Regions from separate parts of the Homo sapiens genome. Here region 2 is linked to region 1. The links come from fine-mapping of genetic effects on gene expression. Tissue or cell type: monocytes. Region 1 holds a variant in brackets; the other region holds the start of a gene. All regions are shown on one strand. Distances are from middle to middle.

Region 1 (4,399 bases):
TGACTACCTCTGTCAATGATGAATCTCCTTATGAGTTAGTCAATATTTTTTCCAGAGCTCACAAAGCATTGATTTTATACGTACTTTTCAGATACCCAATAATAACTTAAACGTAATTCACAAAATTTTTCAGGACAAAATTAAACACACAAAATACAGTCAATCTGCACACTAACAATACAAAGAGAGAGACAAATCAGTAGTAGAGTAGCATCTAGAGTGTGAGAAGAGGAATATCAGGCTGAACCCAAAGCAGTGCTGTGTACTATAATGGAGTCTGTTAGCTGGTAATCATATTACCTTATTATCTGGCATTACAAAGTATTTTGAAAAGCACCCCCAATATTTCATGTAGGTTCTTTTAACAACAGGTGCTGGAGAGGATGTGGAGAAATAGGAACATTTTTACACTGTTGGTGGGACTGTAAACTAGTTCAACCATTGTGGAAGTCAGTGTGGCGATTCCTCAGGGATCTAGAACTAGAAATACCATTTGACCCAGCCATCCCATTACTGGGTATATACCCGAATGACTATAAATCGTGCTGCTATAAAGACACATGCACATGTATGTTTATTGCGGCATTATTCACAATAGCAAAGACTTGGAACCAACCCAAATGTCCAATAATGATAGACTGGATTAAGAAAATGTGGCACATATACACCATGGAATACTATGCAGCCATAAAAAATGATGAGTTCATGTCCTTTGTAGGGACATGGATGAAATTGGAAATCATCATTCTCAGTAAACTATCGCAAGAACAAAAAACCAAACACCGCATATTCTCACTCAGAGGTGGGAATTGAACAATGAGATCACATGGACACAGGAAGGGGAATATCACACTCTGGGGACTGTGGTGGGGTGGGGGGAGGGGGGAGGGATAGCATTGGGAGATATACCTAATGCTAGATGATGAGTTAGTGGGTGCAGCGCACCAGCATGGCACATGTATACATATGTAACTAACCTGCACAATGTGCACATGTACCCTAAAACTTAAAGTATAATTAAAAATAAATAAATAAATAAATAAATAAATAATATTTTCCCTAAATGTCAGCTGGCCTGAGAAATAAACGGACAGAGTACAAAAGAGAGAAATTTTAAAGCTGGGTGTCCGGGGGAGACCTCACATGTCAGCAGTTTCCGTGATGCCCCCTGAGCCATAAAACCAGAAAGTTTTTATTAGTGATTTTCAAAAGGGGAGGGAGTATATGAATAGGGTGTGGGTCACAGAGATCATGTGCTTCACAAGGTAATAGAATATCACAAGGCAAATGGAGGCAGGGTGAGATCACAGGACCACAGGACTGGGGTGAAATTAAAATTGCTAATGAAGTTTTGGGCACACATTGTCATTGATAACATCTTATCAGGAGACAGGGTTTGAGAGCAGACAACTGGTCTGACCAAAATTTATTAGGTGGGAATTTCCTCGTCCTAATAAGCCTGGGAGCACTATGGGAGCCTGGGGCTTATTTCATCCCTACAGCTCGACCATAAATGATGGCTGCCCACCAAAGTGGCCATTTTAGAGGCCTACCCTAAGGGACGCATTCTGTTTCTCAGGGATGTTCCTTGCTGAGAAAAAGAATTCAGCAATATTTCTCCTATTTGCCTTTGAAAGAAGAGAAATATGGCTCTGTTCCGCCTGGCTCACTGGTGGTCAGAGTTTAAGGTTATCTCTCTTGTTCCCTGAACATTGCTGTTATCCTATTCTTTTTTCAAGGTGCCCAGATTTCATATTGTTCAAACACACATGCTCTACAAACAATTTGTGCAGTTAACGCAATCATCACAGGGTCCTGAGGCGACATACATCCTCCTCAGCTTACGAAGATGATGGGATTAAGAGACTAAAGTAAAGACAGGCATAGGAACT[T/C]ACAAGGGTATTGATTGGGGAAGTGATAAGTGTCCATGAAATCTTCACAATTTATGTTAAAAGATTGCAGTAAAGACAGGTGTAACAAATTATAAAAGTATTAATTTGGGGAACTAATAAATGTCCATGAAATCTTCACAATCCACGTTCTTCTGCCATGGCTTCAGCCGGTCCCTCCGTTCGGGGTCCCTGACTTCCCACAACAATGAATCTCCTTAGAAGTTAGTCAATATTTTTCCCAGAGCTTACAAAGCATTGATTTTATACTTACTTTTCAGATACCCAGTAATAACTTAAACCATAATTCACAAAAAATTTTTAGAACAAAATTAAACACACACAATACAGTCAATCTGCACACTAACAATACAAAGAGAGAGATAATTCGGTAGTAGAGTAGCATCTGGAGTGTGAGAAGAGGAATATCAGGCTGAACCCAAAGTGGTGTTGTGTACTGTAATGGAGTCTATTAGCTTGTAATCATATCACCTTATTATCTGGCATTACAAAGTATTTCTAAAGGCTATTTTCTTTTTGGATAGACAGTGGTGCTTTCAATTCCCTCTAGCAGTCACAGATGTGCAGGTGAATTAACTGTAATGCTCAACTTTCTAACCATAATGAAGAACACTGATAATAATTCACACTGATTGATCATCAGGTTTGTTTGTTTTCCCCACATAATATTAGAAACCTTCCTTCCAGGCCTTCGTTTCCATATTTCATTGTTAACTAGCATTCTACTGTTTCTAATACATATTGTCAACTCTCAGGTGGAGAAGTATTCTTTTAAATGTTAAACTTGTAAAATATCAGTTACATACTTAGCAATGAAGAGGAGTATTACCTTTGTGTAGAAATAAAAAACCACCGCTGTTTGCTACTCAATTATATCTTACTTACCAATGTTAGTATTTGGAGATGCCTCCCCAAATTTGGTTTCTAATAGGAAAATAATAGCAACTAAAAATCAGGTATAATGATATGGTTTGGCTGTGTCCCCACCCAAATCTCATCTTGAATTGTTATCTCAGTTGTAATCCCCACATGTTGGGGCAGAATAATATGATTTGGCTGTATCCTCACCAAATCTTATCTTGAATTGTAATCTGAATTGTAACATCCATGTATTGGGGGAGGGACCTCATGGGAGGTGATTGAATCATGGGGGCCATTCCCCTGTGCTGTTCTCATGATAGGGAGTGAGTTTTCATGAGATCTGATGGTTTTGTGAGGGGCTTTTCCCCATTTTGCTTTGCCCTTCTCTCATTCTTCTCCTTCCTGTCACTATGTGAAGGACATGTTTGCTTTCCCTTCTGCTATGATTGTTAAGTTTTCTGAGGCCTCCCCAGCCCTATGGAACTTTGATTTAATTATAACTCTTTCCTTTATAAATTACCCAGTCTGGTATTTTCTTCATGGAAGCATGAGAATGGACTAATACATATACCTTTGATTATAGCTTTTATATTTGTAAAAGTGAATATTATGGTGAAAACTTGGTTAAAATATATTACTAGGTAGTGATTCAAAATGAAAAAAATTCTCGTGTCCTAACAAAGATTATATTCGTTATTTTAAAACTACATTCCTAAAAATATCCTATCCTGCACAATGATCAGTTTCCCACAATAAAATATTTGATGAGAGTATCACAGAGATTTATTAATCAGAATTTGGTTATACTCAGGTATAAGTTAGGCTACTGCCTCCTGATGTCATTTGAGGACCTCATCTTTGTGCCCCAAAACCCTCTCCCAGGTGCTCATATGATTTCATATGACCTGAAAGGTAACTGTTTGCTAGAGGGTATCAAGCAGCTCTTCAAATCAACAGGAAGACTTGAGAAATACTCTCCAGCAGCAAAAAAAAGGGATTTGAAGCTCAACCAAGATTCAGCAACAAAAATGTGTGCTTAGAACATATGGCAGATTATACTCTCAATTCTCTGTTCTCTTGTAATAGATAATGTATACATTCACAGCCTTATCATGGTCTCATAGTAGAAAAAAAAGATATTTCCTAGTGTTTTAACTTTGTGTTTGGCCATATGACTTGCTGTGAACCATGGGATCTCAGTGGCCATGAAACAGCAAAGACTTAAATGTGTCTGGAATGTGCATGCCCCAGGTATGCTGTTGGATCCCCAGAAAAATGTGAGCCATATGGACAAGATCTAAACTCTAAGTATGGCCTGGAGCCAAGCCTAGCAATGGCTAGTCTAAATCAGCCGAACTCCAGTTAATAAGCAACACATGAGTGAGAAGTAAATACTTTTGTTGTATGCCACTGAGATTTTTGCGATTGGGTGTTGTGCAATAAAAGCTGAATGACACAGGAAAACAATGATCCCAATAGAACTGGAAACTGACAGCCACTTCTCTTGCTATAAGTAGGAATAAATATCCTTGCATTTTCTGCCAAGTGTCAAATTCCTAGATAAAAATAGGCAGTTAGGCATCAGATGTCAAAAGGTAGAATAGCTACTTCTGCTTTCATGGTGGTAA
Region 2 (4,399 bases), 220 kb before region 1:
CAAATGCAAAATGGTTTGGAAAATAGTACACATTACACTGATGGCAAATGAATTCAGCTCTTCTCTAAGTTGGTGTGTAAACTTATATATTAAACGTACGTAGTGAAAAAATACTCTCTGAGATACAAAATTAGTGTGGAAGGTCAGACACAGTTAAGATAGAAGATTCTCTTTTCTTATATCAAGTGGAGTTCTAGACAAAAAAAAGTAAGACTCTGCATTTCCCCTGATAAATAAAAAGAAGTGTTTTGTATACTAACATCTGTGGATTTCTCTGTGTTCAGGTAAGACCCACTTGGAATGCTTTCCTATTACATCAAACGAGGCATTTCTCTATACCTCCTTCCATCTGACAGTACTATCGCTTAGCTGTCCCTGAAGAATAATAAGAAAAGAAAGCTTATATCCCCAATGATGGAATTAGAGACTGCTGAAGCTGCTGTAAAGGCTCTGTCCAACAAGTACCATTTACTTGACCTATTATGCAGGCAGCCAGGGGCATGTTGGTGTTTTGATATATTTTTCTTTCTTTTAACAAGACGTTACAAAAATGTTTTCCCCTTCAGGATTTTTAAAATTTAGGGTATCTTTCTAGCATTACTTTCTAAACTTAGTTCCAGTACAGGAGGATTCTTGTCCAACTGAGCCTCCATGTGCCTTCTAAAGGGAGTGCTGAAATTGTATAAACATCATGTTTACATCCATTAAATATTGTCCTATTAAAAGAAAATAAAGCCAGGCATAAGTTTGGTATCCAGACAATAAAATGCAAATAGTACAAAGGTAGAATAAAGTGAAAATTCTACACAAATGTAGCTTCCATACAAAAGTTAAACAGTTGCTTTATTTCACGAAAGGGTTAATACTGGAGAAAGTGAATATCAACATGTACACAAAGCTAACTAGAAGATTAGCTTTCTCAAAGTAGAAATCCAAGCCTCCCTATAAAATTGTTGTCCCTTGCAAATGTTTTGAAACTTTACATTTTTTGATCCCCCAACAACAGGCCATACCAAGAAACCTCAGGAAAGTAATAATCTATTTTAATTGTTTTTTTTTTTTTGTTACTCAAGAAAGCTTTCAAAGTTCAGATATTAACACTGATGTGCAATACCAAATTGTTAGCCCCACAGGACAGATGGAAACAGGAAAAGTCAGATGGTTGGCACTCAAAAGCAAAAGCAATTAAGCAGTTGAAAGTGGGTTGGATTGTCGGTTTATTTTTGTTCCATTTGAACGAATCAAGTGAGAGACATAGACTCTTGCAAGGAGGAAATCAAGTCAAACTTGACGCTTCCTCTCTCTGACAGCCCAAGCTGGACTGGTTGTCTACTCCCCTTATTCAGTTTAATTGCTTTATGTGCTCTGATTTTCGCAGAGCTTGTATTCTATCTTGTTTACGTTCCCCCCCCCCCCCATATCCCTCTCCCCAACAGAAAGAAATCTTTCTCCTTTCTTCACTCCCCCTCTTTCCTCTAAGAAAGGCAATCCTCTCCAGGAGGAGAAAGAAACGCTGTGCGTGCTTAGGGTGGGAGGAGGGCGAGAGGGGAGGTGTGGGAGAGAAAGAGAGAAAAGATTGAGATTGGGGGTGGGGGACGGAGGAGAGAGAACAAGAGAAGGAAAGAGGAAGCAAGAAGATGGGGGATGCCCAACATCAACTCCAGGCTCTAAATCACGGGCGCTGTGCAAAGTGCTTTTCCAGGAGATGCACATGTAGTCTCATATTTCTCACAATAGGCCACCCGGGGATCCCTCCCTAGGTCTCAGACTCCCACCACTAAAACCCAAGTGTATCGAGAAGAAAATCTTTGGGATGGATTCGAGCAGATAGGCACCGCCGAGGTGGCCGCGCCGCCAGTCCCGCTTCCTTACCTGGAGGGCGGACCGGGAGGTGGTGCCGGGTCTCGGTCCCCAGTGCTCTCCCCGCGTGGACCGGCGCGAGGCACACGCGTACTCTCGCTGCCTCCGCTCTTGGAGGGGCAGCCTGCAACACAAAAGGGGTGTGTGGGTGTGGGTGTGTGGGAGGTTTTCCAGGGCCACCAGCTGGTCCCACGTGGTCGCCCCCACCCTACACACACCCCTTCGGGGCGCCAAGCCCCCCTCTCGGCTGAGCACCACCCTGGGGACTTGCCCGGGGTGCAGCCTCAAGTTGCCGCTGCTAACTGCTGCTGCCGCTGCCGCTGCTGCAGGAGGAGGTGGAAAGACACTGGGGGCAGTACTCGGTCTAGAGCATCCCCACACTGCAGCTTCTCCAGGAATCCCTCCAGTGAGGAGGCGGCCGCCCATCATCTCCGAGCCCCAGCATCCTGATTGGCTCCACCTCGGGTACGCTGCGCCAAGGAGCCAATCCCCGCGCACTAATAATAGGTGGATCCGTTCAGCCAACATCGCCCATCCCAGTTCTGTTAGTGTCTCTCCATCCCCACAGCGGACAGGGACCTGGGAAGCGGGGTGGAGGCGGGTTGGGGGAGGGGGTGAAGTAAGAGGGGAACAGATCCCAAGGAGACACAATCAAGGGCGTCTGATAAAACCTCTAGGTAGACTCAGGAATGCCCCACAAGCTGTTCAGCAAGCAGTATGCACAGGAGAAAGAGAGCATAATACAAAGCTTTTTTTTTTTTTTTTTTACTCTCAATCAAAACCTACCCTGATACTGAGCATGCCCAGACTGCAACAGCGACCTAGGAGTTTCGATGTGTGTGGGTTCGCCAGCTGTGGGTTTTTGAAAAGCTGGGACCGGGGACAGGAGAGGTAGAAGTTTGTCTTTGGCCATTTAACCCGGCGGAGTTGTGAAAGCTGGGTAGGGTGGGGATGTGAAAGGGTTCCGCACAAGTGTCCTCAAACTGAGCCGCGGGGAGGTGGCCCACCTGGCTGCCGGAGGCTCATCATGCTGTTCTTCTGGGGTTCCGGGTTGGAAGCGGGGGCGGGATAAGCTGAGCTTTGCTGGAAGCCTGGGGACTTCCCGCGAAGGGTGCGGTGGAGCCGAGATGCGGGAGAAGCAGCTCCGTCCCATAGGTGGGGCCGGGAGCGCGACTCCACCCATCAGCGGCGGCTGCCAGGCCGTGGAGAGTGCACTGGGAGTTTCCATTGCAGCGACCAATAAGTTTGTACACTTGGGTCAAGTGCAACATTGTTGGAGATGCTTTTTTATTTTTTCATTTTTATTTTTTGCCACCTCCCTCCCCCATCTCTCTCGACCCCTTGCCAGAGCAGTGACGACTAAAGCATAGATTCTCTCCCTGCTTCCTCTCTTCCCAGCTGAACCGTTCTGCTCGGAAGTAAGAAGCTTTTCTCTTGTGAGGGCGGTGGTGACCTGATTGTCTCTAAGCTCTCAGGCAATTTATAGCTTGGTAATACCGAAATACCGAACAGGAAGGCTCAGCGGGTGGGGGAAGGGACCGCGCGCCAGGCTAGGGGCGGGAGCGGAGCCCAGCTGGGAGAGGGGCCCGTCCATTATCTGCTCCACAGGTGAAAGGATTTCAAAACGGAGAGAACTATTTCCCTTTCTCCCTCCCTCAACCTCGTTTAAAGGCCTTTGAACCTCTTATTTGTTTTATTTAGAAATCCTAGCATTTTGTGTAAACTTGATCAATAGCTACAAATGAGAACTCTCCTAATTGGGTTCTTTATTTTACTGAGAAGATTATCTTGGCATCTCAGGTAGGGAAATAAATAGCTATCTCAATTCCCCAAACCCATCCACTTTGAACTGGAGTTTTATTAACATTGGTGTGCAAAGGTAAATGTAGCAAGAATTCAATTAACAGTAACACATTTCTTCAAGTTTTTAATTAAATCTCTTCTACTTATGTAATGTTTAAGATTAAGATCCTTATTCTAAGTATACGGGAAAAGAAGGCAACGTGATATAAATATATCCTTCTAAGTGACAAACACTTGTATTTGGGCTATGCTTGAATAATAGGAAGTTTAACATTAGAGGTAGAAGTGTGAAAATAATGCACCCCAGACTTGTGACTTCATGTAAATATTCACTTTCCATTTTCCAAAATAGTCTCCAAACCTTATTTTAAAATCATTTCATAGTTGGAGAAATAAGATAAAAGAATTTGGTCTAAATTTTATTTCAGTTATTTAGTGAAGGAGAGGAGGAGGAGAAGACAGAGAAGGAAGAAAAACGACAGGATAAAAAGTAGAAGAAGTTGGAGGAGGAGGAAGGGGAGGAGAAGGAGGATGGTGAGGTGGAGGAAAAGGAGAAGAAGGAGGAAGAGAAGACGAAGAAGAATTAAGTAACCCTGTAATTTTGTTGTCCAATAAATATCTTTGGATGAGAAGATTATTATAATATCCACTTAATATAGATCTTTATTCTAAATATATGCCTAGCATACTTTCTAGATTCCAGTGATTAAAACTGGCACATTTATCCTATTTACCA

Evidence for each region. PIP is the estimated chance that this variant, and not a neighbour inherited with it, causes the effect. A credible set is the group of variants that fine-mapping cannot tell apart.
Region 2: it holds the start of SYT1, and the variant in region 1 is the best candidate, but not a certain one, in a credible set for the expression of SYT1 in monocytes (TOPMed, PIP 0.79).

What each region holds. Positions count from the first base shown.
Region 1 is chr12:78,645,919-78,650,317 of GRCh38, reverse strand. No RefSeq gene overlaps it. Among named protein-coding and RNA genes, the nearest start is that of SYT1, 220 kb to the left of the region's middle. The variant T/C (reference allele first, on the strand shown) is at 1,893.
Region 2 is chr12:78,862,583-78,866,981 of GRCh38, reverse strand. SYT1 (synaptotagmin 1) reads right to left here and starts at 2,208. Exons shown (of 11, transcript NM_005639.3): 1 at 1,873-2,208. RefSeq lists a silencer at 3,365-3,424.